Linked DNA regions of Homo sapiens. The protein of the gene in region 1 purifies or fractionates together with the protein of each later gene. This does not show direct contact. Each region holds a gene or a part of one and is shown in the gene's direction. Other genes may lie near its edges.

Region 1 (7,039 bases):
GCTAACACGGTGAAACCCCGTCTCTACTAAAAATACAAAAAAAATTAGCCGGGCGTAGTGGCAGGCACCTGTAGTCCCAGCTACTCGGGAGGCTGAAGCAGGAGAATGGTGTGAACCCAGGAGGCGGAGCTTTCAGTGAGCCAAGATCGTGCCACTGCACTCCAGCCTGGGTGACAGAGCAAGACTCTGTCTCAAAAAAAAAAAAAAAAGAGAGTAAAGAAGGACTTTGATGAATATATAACATTTTAACAAATGTATATATTCGTTAAAATGTTATATATTCATATATAACGTATATATATTCATATATAACGTGTATATATATGTGTATATATATATATGTATATATATATGAAGGACCTTCCAGGCATTAATATGATATTTAAAATATTGCTAATTTTCTATTATTAATTACTTAGTAGTATGAAAATTTGGACTTGTTTCCTCATTTATAAAGTTTATACTTTAAAAATATTTGTCCTTTTCCTTTTCTGAAAAATGTTCTATGTTTTTAGGTACGGCCGAATAGAAATTCTGTCTGGATTTATTAATGGACTTTTTCTAATAGTAATAGCGTTTTTTGTGTTTATGGAGTCAGTGGCTAGATTGATTGATCCTCCAGAATTAGACACTCACATGTTAACAGTAAGTCTTTTTATTTTCCTATTTGGATTTCTAGTCATACTTACATAGTTTTTTCTATCCTAAAGTTTAATTGTTTGCAGTTATTGCTCTAAGAAGGTTTTATTTTTTACTTATATCAACATAACTTCCTATCTTGCTGTTTACATTTATACTGCTCCCTCTTAGAAATTCTCTTTTTTTTTTTTTTTTTTTTTGAGACAGAGTCTCTGTTTTCCAGGCTGGAGTGCAGTGGCATGATCTCAGCTCACTGCAGCCTCCACCTCTCAGGCTCAAGCGATTCTCGTGCCTCAGCCTCCTGAGTAGCTGGGATTACAGGCATGTGCCACCACCCCCTGCTAAATTTTGTATATTTTGTATAGATAGAGTTTCGCCATGTTGGCCAGGCTGGTCTCGAACTACTGACCTCAAGCAATCCTCCCACCTTGGCATCCCAAAGTGCTGGGATTACAGGCATGAGCCACTGTGCCCGGCCAGCTATAGCAACTTTTAATGTTCTCCCTGTACCACCAAAGCTTTACATGTGCTGTTTCTTGTAGTTGGCATGTCCTTTCCTTACTTCTGCCCTTCAGCCTCCATCAAGATTTTGCTTATGTGAAATACTTTTTTTCTTTTCTTTTTTTCTTTTTTTTCAAGCAATTCTCCTGTCTCAGCTTCCCGAGTAGCTGGGACTACAGGCGCCTGCCACCACGCCTGCCTAATTTTTGGAAATACTTTCTTTTAATCCCCCTCTTCTCTCCACAAAGTTTGTTAGATTCCTTTTCTCAGTATTCTCATTATGTTTTGTGCATTCTTCTTTTAGCAACATTGAGTTGCAGTTGTTTAATTTGTCATTCTTCCACAATTAAGATATGTAAGTATCTTCAGGACCTGAATTACATATTATTAACTCTTAAGTTCAGTTCTAGCACCTGGCTTGTCGTAGGAAATCAGTTGTTAAATGACAAAAAGCAGCTCTGGCTCTTGCTGGTGGAAGCATACATGAGTAAAATGTTTCTATAATACAGTTTGGAAAAATAGACTTTTTTGGATTTTTTAGTGCCTGTATCCTTTGATATTGACTATTTATCATACATAAACATTCACACAAACATATAGAAGTACATGACTCTGGCCGGGTGCAGTGGCTCACGCCTGTAATCCCAGCACTTTGGGAGGCCGAGGTGGTTGGATCACCTGAGGTCAGGAGTTTGAGACCAGTCTGGTCAACATAGTGAAACCCCATCTCTACTAAAAATACAAAAATTAGCCGGGCATGATGGCGCACACCTGTAATCCCAGCTAGTTGGGAGGCTGAGGCAGGAGAATCACTTCAACCACGAGGCAGAGGCTTCAGTGAGCCCAGGTTGCACCAACTGTACTCCAGCCTGGGTGATAGAGAGACTCTGCCTCAAAAAAAAAAAAAAAAAAAAGTAGTACATGATTCATTGTACCCTTATTTATAATAGTGAAAAAATGGAAACAATTCACTGTCCACCAGTGAAAAAAGTAATTAAATAAATTTGTTATCTATATAATAGAATATTACAGAGCTATTGAAAAGAATGAGATATATCTGTATATACTGGCCTGAAAATATTTACGAGATGTACTAGTGAAAAACAAATTGCAGGCCATGCATGGTGGCGGGCGCCTGTAATCCCAGCTGCTTGGGTGGCTGAGGTAGGAGAATTGCTTGAACCTGGGAGGCAGAGGTTGCAATAAGCCGAGATCATGCCACTGCACTCCAGCCTGGTTGACAGAGCAAAACTCTGTCTCAAAATGAAAAAAAAAAAATTGTAAAATAGTATTATGATTACATTGTTGGTTTTAAAGGGTGTTATGTGTATGTATGTTAGTACACAGATGGAAAATACACCATTTTAAGCGTGACTAACCCTTGGTGGTAGAATTATAGGGGACTTTCATCTTCTACATTTTTATTTTCCTGATAAAATACACAATGATGAAGTATTTTTCAGTAGGGGAGAAGGAGTACTTATGAGATGATGGAGTCTCTGTAAGCAGTACTTGGTTTCATTCAAAGTCATTAACCATCTACCAGCTTATAAAGCCTAATGAAATTTTAAAATCTGGAGTCAAATGGTCCGAATCAGGAAGAAGTAAATAACCTCCCTACACATTTAATAAAGTAAATCTCTTACTACTTTTGAAAAGTAATTAAAAGTATTTGTCCTTCTCATATTTATATTTTCCTTTTATAAAACAAATGGATTGCTTTAAATTGTAGATGTAGGCAAATTAACACCCTGAGCTACTACTATTCAAGATCATTTTGTAAGAGCAGATAATCAAGGATAAGTAACTTTGTTTATCCTTTGGAGTATTATTGTGGCACCATTAAATTAAAGTAATTTCATTCACTTTGTTAAGAAAAAAATGAGAGGCCAGGCATAGTGGCTCATGCCTGTAATCCCATAATCCCAACACTTTTGGAGGCCAAGGTGAGAAGATCGCTTGAGCCCAGGAGTTTGAGGACAGCCTGGGCAACATAGACCCTGTCTCTACCAAAGAAAAAAATTTGTTTTTAATTTAAATAAATGCGAGATTACTATTGTATGTTTCCTTTTTATTATACTTGTTTTACTTTGGAAAATTTTACTGTGTTTAAGACATAATAAGACCATATTTGGAATCTGCTCATTAATAAATTATAATTGTTGGCATATAAACTGTTCAAATTTACCTAGCAATATAAAGATTTCAGGTACAGTGTATACTTGCCCTAGTAAGCAGTACTTTCAAACTCTTCAATAAACAAAACAAAACTTTGCATCATTTATTTATACATAAACCATAAACCAAGTACATACCATTCTTAATTGAAATAAGTCCAAATTCCTCTACTTACCAATTCTGCTTGATATTTGAAAGTTAAAATGTTTCTTCTAAAATGTTCTAAAATTCACATTTTTAAAATTTTGGACTTACTGAAACTTAGTAAGGTTTTACTGTGAATACTTTCAAAACTGTAAACAGAAAAACATATATAGCTATATAATAACTTTTAAATAACAAGTCTATTTTTAAATTACTAATTTAAAGGTTTTTTTTCTCCCTTTTGCTAGCCAGTCTCAGTTGGAGGGCTGATAGTAAACCTTATTGGTATCTGTGCCTTTAGCCATGCCCATAGCCATGCCCATGGAGCTTCTCAAGGAAGCTGTCACTCATCTGATCACAGCCATTCACACCATATGCATGGACACAGTGACCATGGGCATGGTCACAGCCACGGATCTGCGGGTGGAGGCATGAATGCTAACATGAGGGGTGAGTCCTTGCAAAATATTATCCTACTTTTCAACTGTGTTCTAAATCAACCCTCTGTGTTTATTTGTATTAAGTTTTGGGCTTCTGGTATGATATGATTTTTAAAAAGCAATCTGTGACTAAAAGAAAGGTCTGAAGCTATCACTATAGAAAATATTCTTACCTGAATACACATAAAATTAAATATTATTCAGCCTTTAAAAAGAGGGACATTCTGGCTGGGAGCATGGTGGTTCACGCCTGTTAATCCCAGCAATTTGGGAGGCTGAGGCGGGAGTACCACCTGAGGACAGGAGTTCAAGACCAGCCTGGCCAATATGGTGAAACCCTGTGCCTACTAAAAATACAAAAATTAGCCGGACATGGTGGCAGGTGCTTGTAATCCCAGCTACTCAGGAGGCCGAGGCAGAAGAATCGCTTACAGGTGTGAGCCACCATGCCTGGCCGTCACAGAAAATTTTTTAAAAAGAAAATGAGGCTGGGAACAGTGGCTCACATCTGTAATCCTAGCACTTTGGGAGGCCAAGGTGGGTGGATCACCTGAGGTCAGGAGTTCGAGACCAGTCTCTCCAACATGGTGAAACCCTGTCTCTACTAAAAATACATAACTTAGCCAGGTGTGGTGGCAGGCGCCTGTAGTCTCAGCTACTCAGGAGGCTGAGACACGAGAATCACTTGAACCTGGGAGATGGAGGTTGCAGTGAGCCAAGATTACGCCACTTTACTCCAGCCTGGGCAACAGAGTGAGACTCTATCCAAAACAAAAAGAAAATGAAAATATATTTGTTCTTAAATGTTAGTTTTTAAATGATTATAATTATATAGTCCTTTTCATAGTGACAGCTGAATAGATATTAGTTGCAAGGTAAACACAGTGTGCTATTATGAACCTTCATTACAAAAAGGAAATTCTTACTCCTTTTTTAGAAATTTTTATTGCACTATAAAAAAAATGGAGGAAGTACTAATCATTTATTTTGCTGAATTGTTTATTCTGATTGCTTAATATAAGTAATGTGGGTAATGTCAAAACTTGCCTCAAGTATGATTTTTGGGAAGCCTTTCCAGACAAAGTACACCATAAAATTTGGCACGCTGTGTCATGAGTGCCTATGTCCTTATATTTTTACCACTGTATTCTGAATTCCTTGAGGGCAGTGACCATGTTTTAGGCATTTTGAAGTACTAGCCAGTAGCAGAGTATGTGGTGCACAGTAGGTATCCAGTAATATTAGTAGAATGTATTAAAAAACTAAATTAGATGTGCCTTAATTTTTAATGTCCTTATATATTTTATTTGTAGGTGTATTTCTACATGTTTTGGCAGATACACTTGGCAGCATTGGTGTGATCGTATCCACAGTTCTTATAGAGCAGTTTGGATGGTTCATCGCTGACCCACTCTGTTCTCTTTTTATTGCTATATTAATATTTCTCAGTGTTGTTCCACTGATTAAAGATGCCTGCCAGGTTCTACTCCTGAGATTGCCACCAGAATATGAAAAAGAACTACATATTGCTTTAGAAAAGGTACTGTATGTAATTTCTTCACTACTTTCTTCCTTGAAAATCACATTTTTGAAGTCTTTGCTGGAAGTAAAACAGACAACCAAATAAATAATAAAACAAAACGAGGCCAAAAAAGAAATATAAAGTAGCATTTAAAATTTAATAAGTTGACCTAACAAGAAATATGCAAGATATAAATGAGAAAAATACAGTTTTACTTAAAGGATATAAAACAGGGACCGAATAGATGGATGAGATTTTCTTGGATGAGAAGACTCTTTATTATAATGATGTTGATTTTATTTTATTTAGATTTCAATTTAGTTGCCTTCATTGGATATTTTTGTTTATGGTTTGGGATGTTCTAAAATTATTTGGAACTTACTTGGAAGAGTTAGCGCTTGAGAATAAGAAAACATACATAAACTTACAGAATTAATTAATAGGATCCTACTTTGCAATTATAAAGTAGCAGAATTAAGTGACAAAACTAACAGTTTAGATCGAGACCATCCTGGCTAACAAGGTGAAACCCCGTCTCTACTAAAAATACAAAAAATTAGCCGGGCGTGGTGGCGGGCACCTGTAGTCCCAGCTACTCGGGAGGCTGAGGCAGGAGAATGGCGTGAACCCGGGAGGCAGAGCTTGCAGTGAGCCGAGACCACGCCACTACACTTCAGCCTGGGTGACAGAGCGAGACTCCACCTCAAAAAAAAAAAAAAAAAACCTAACAGTTTGGTCCTTGCACAAGAATAAAGACATAAATCAACTTTTAAAAAAATAATAAGTTCCCATTCTTGTGACCTGGGATTGTTTCCTGGACAGCACAAAAAAAAAAATAGTAACAATAATAATAGGTTGTCTGTAAAAGAAGAAATAATAAAAAATGAAAATAAATGAAGAATTATGGTATGTAATGTAAAAGAAGAAATAAAAATAGGTTGTCCAGAAACAGACCCAGGAGTTTATGGAATTCAGTATATAGCAAAGATGGTATTTTAGATCACTGGGGAGAAATAGTTGACCTAAATAACCAGCTTTTGGTTAATTACTTCTTTACTTTGTGGGGAAAAAAAAGCTATATCTCTATACCATATTATATAAAAATACATTTCCAGTGGATTAAATATGTAAATGACAAAAAAATTATGAAACTACTAAATAGAGAAATATTTTTGTTTGTTTGTTTTTTGAGACAGTCTTGCTCTGTTGCCAGGCTGGAGTGGAGGGGCGCAATCCCAGCTCACTGCAACCTCCACCTCCCGGGTTCAAGCGATTCTCCTGCCTCAGCCTCCCAAGTTGCTGGGATTACAGGCCTACCACACCCAGCTAATTTTTGTATTTTAGTAGAGATGGGGTTTCGCCATGTTGGCCAGGCTGGTCTTGAACTCCTGACCTCAAGCTATCCACCCACCTTGGCCTCCCAAAGTGCTGGGATTACAGGTGTGAGCCACTGCACCCCGCCAGAAAAATATGTTTATAATCACAAAGATAGGGAAAGACTTTTTAATATACTTGAAACCAGAGGCCAAAAAGGGAGGATAAAATTTACAAATTTGACCAGTTGAAAATTGCCAGTTGGTGGAAGATTTCATTAACAAGTATAAAACATAAAAGG
Region 2 (3,366 bases), about 46 Mb from region 1:
TTTTTTTATTTGTAAAGGTGGAAAAACTTTGGAACTCATTTTGGGCTATTCATGTTAAATATTCAACACCAATGATCTACTCTGTTCGCAGTTGTTTATATCTACTCTTCGCACACTAAACTTTGGTATTTTGATTCCTTTTAACCATTTAAGACTACTTTTCTTATAGGTAGTTGATATTTTAAAAACTTTAGATTTAATGTCTACATGTGTTAGGGAGGAAGAAAATTGCCTTTTAATTGTTAATAAGAAAACCAAATGTGATGAACTGTAGCCCAAGCCCTATTCTGCACTGTTCAGTTTTATGGAGGAAAAATAAATCTACCATAGGAATGTTAGTTAATATTGATATATCATGGTAAAATTGATTTCTCACTAGCTTAGAAAATGTCAGACTTTTGTTTTTGGGGTTTATAATTTAAACCAGCTATGCTATTTTTTCATAAAGGCATTTGTAGTACACAGAAAACAGTAGTTTCAGTAGTGTAAAAGAGTTTATACAGGCCTTAAATATCAGACTTTGTAACAGGTAGAAATATTACAGAATAATTTAAGACACTACAATGGGGGCAAATGAAATAGGAAAATTTTTAGTGAGTTACACGTACTCATTACATTTTCAGTGCTTTTACAAGGAAAAAAGGTGATATGTTTAATTTTAAAATTTTAATTGGCTAGCTCTTGCCCTTATATGACTTTAATGTCTGTGAGTCATTCCCAGCTTAAATTAACAATTGTTAGTATTAGTCTCACACATAAGTGCCATACATTTTATCCTCATGGATGTGATGCACTGAAAAGTTAGTTGCTCTCCTTTTTTCTTTTTTTTGTCGTGCATATTTTATTTCTGTAGTTTCTGGTTAGCTACCCTAAAGTGATTTAAAAATTTAGAATGCTTTGTGTTTCCTATTTGGTAATCTTCATTGACTTTTCTTTAGTTAATGAGTATTAAATAGTGCATATTCTGTAGACTATAGGGTTTACATTGTGTTGCATCTTATAACTTGTATAGATTGAGCTGATTGAAATAAGATTTTGTTCCAAGTATTATCTGATAGAATACAAGATGATTCAAAATTATATAGATATTTAAAGCTTTTCTGCTGTTTTTTTTTTTTTTAATTGCAACTGCTTTTCTGCCGTGCCTCTCTTCCCTACCCAAAAGTGATGAGTTCTGAACAAGACAAGACTGTCATATTGTAGAGACTTTGGTATGTGATACCATAGAATACTGATTGGATAGCCATCCTAGTCACTTACCAATACTGACTAGAAGTTAACTCTTAATTCTAAGCTATCTTAAAATGCATATATATACTTCTTGCATGGAAGAGCAAAACAAATTCAAGTTGTCATGCCTGATAATTTCAGATGCCACCGTATAGCAAAGGGTGAACATGTTTTCAACCCTTTAACTTTTTACGGTGTTTGAAGACCAGCTACTCCTTAATATTTATCAATGGATTAAGAAGTTTAAGATTTTGCAGATTTATCAATTTGGGTTTTTGTACTGAAGTTGTCTTGCGGCTTTGCAAGTGTCCCTTTATATTTAAATTTGAAAGTTGTAAGCACTGATGTTAATGTGATTGATCAGCATGGGCATATGTAAAATGTCCTTTTCTGGTTGCCTCTCTATGCTATTGTGTTCAGATACTTACACCATAATTAAACAGTAAGTTATAGACTTGCTGAGTTTGGCATAGATAGTGCACTCATTTAATCTGTGCCTCTCAAAACTTCAGAATATTAGCATATTACCACAAATAATTTTTGGTGAAACTATTGAGATATTAAAATTTTTGAAATCACTACTGTTACCTGTTATAGAAAATAGTGTTGGCTTAGTCTAGTCTCTGTGTAACTGGTTACATTTTGATGGTTGTCTATACTCAACTGGATATGTGTATGTAAATTAGAAAATACATACCTATCCAGACATAAATGCTAAGTAACATTTTTTTCTTCCTCCAACTACATAATTTGTAGCTCATCATTTTTCCTTAATCCTTTCCTAACTTGTTGCAGCAGTTTGAATTTCCCAGATATTTATGTTTGAACATAATGGCTCAGAATACATATTTGAACATCATAGTTGTATATATTTTTAAAGTAGAATAAATAATGGAAAGCAACTTGATATACAAGTTTATACTAAAATTTCAACTGTGTGAAGATACATTTTAAGGCATTACTTTGCTAATAATCTACACATTCTTTTTTCTATTAAATAAACAAATGGTTTGTGGTTCACAGCTTTCATCCAAGCTTGGTGATAATCAATTTTGAAAATACAGTGGACTGAAAAGCAAATTTATTCTTTCGAAGATTTCATTTAAATCTCTGTACTATGCATTTTTGTTTCAGTTTGTAAATGTGTAACATTTATAGTTAAATAGGACAAAGCAGGCCCTATGACTATTGTTTTCAAAAAATTAATATATAAATAATTCAGAGGGGTTTTTCATTTACTTTTGAAAAGAAATTTCTTTAACAGGATTGCACCTATCAATTTCTTGTAGAATAAAAAAAAATCTTTCAACAAACTGACTTTACTTGTTTCTGTCAGGATTTAAATCTTTCTAAAGCTCCTTATAAACTTAAAGCCTAGAGTACAGTTCTGTAATGAGAGTGATTATTTATTTGGTATTTTATTAAAATATCTGAGGGACTGTCCAAGAAAGAAGGTGAAAGAGAAATACCACGTCTGTACTGCCTAATTTGTAACCTTCTCTTTGCATTCCTTACTGAAAGTTTGTGTAGGTGAAAAGCAGTTAAATCATCAGTTGCTCTAAAGAGGTCTTAATTTTTAAGTAAATTACCTTTAGTTTGTATATTACCCAGTTGTATCAGTGTTTTTCTTAATAATGTAGTCAGAGGGGACAGTCTGGTTCCTGGGCATAATTCTCCAAAAACAACAGGGAAATAACTATAAATATAGGTTAACATTTATTGAATGCCTACCTTGTGCTAGGTGCTGTGCTGAGTATTTGTATTGACACATTTAATCTTTGCAATGATTCTATGAAATAAAGGTATTATTTCCATTTTACAGATGAGGAAACTGAGGAATAGAGGGGTTAAGAAATCTCATATCACACAGTATATTAGCAGAGTTTGAATATGAACCATAGCAGTCTGGCTCCAGAGCCCTCTTTCTCAAGCACTATGCAATATTGCCTTACAAAAAACCAATTAAGGATAGATCTCTGAAGGCTTAGCTATCTTGATTTCACTACAGCTCAGTAGCAGTTCAGTGCTTTGGCTTTGGAGTCACAGCCAAGTTCAAGTCATGGTTGTGTGACTTTGGATTTTATTAACTATATATTTCTGTTTTCCATCTGCTGCTAAGGTGATGCCATCTGGTAT

What was found. Proteins that work in one complex are often made in the same cells at the same time.
Region 2: the proteins of SLC30A5 (region 1) and TMED7 purify together in Homo sapiens (affinity purification with mass spectrometry; 2 studies listed by BioGRID and IntAct, with this or other methods). This does not show direct contact.

The regions. Positions count from the first base shown.
Region 1 is NC_000005.10:69,117,984-69,125,022, forward strand, and holds part of SLC30A5 (proton-coupled zinc antiporter SLC30A5), read left to right. Parts: intron 1-515; coding exon 516-645; intron 646-3,710; coding exon 3,711-3,912; intron 3,913-5,215; coding exon 5,216-5,442; intron 5,443-7,039. UniProt on the Homo sapiens protein: Together with SLC30A6 forms a functional proton-coupled zinc ion antiporter mediating zinc entry into the lumen of organelles along the secretory pathway.
Region 2 is NC_000005.10:115,612,680-115,616,045, reverse strand, and holds the end of TMED7 (transmembrane emp24 domain-containing protein 7 precursor), read left to right. Parts: 3' UTR 1-2,836; downstream 2,837-3,366. UniProt on the Homo sapiens protein: Potential role in vesicular protein trafficking, mainly in the early secretory pathway. Appears to play a role in the biosynthesis of secreted cargo including processing and post-translational modifications.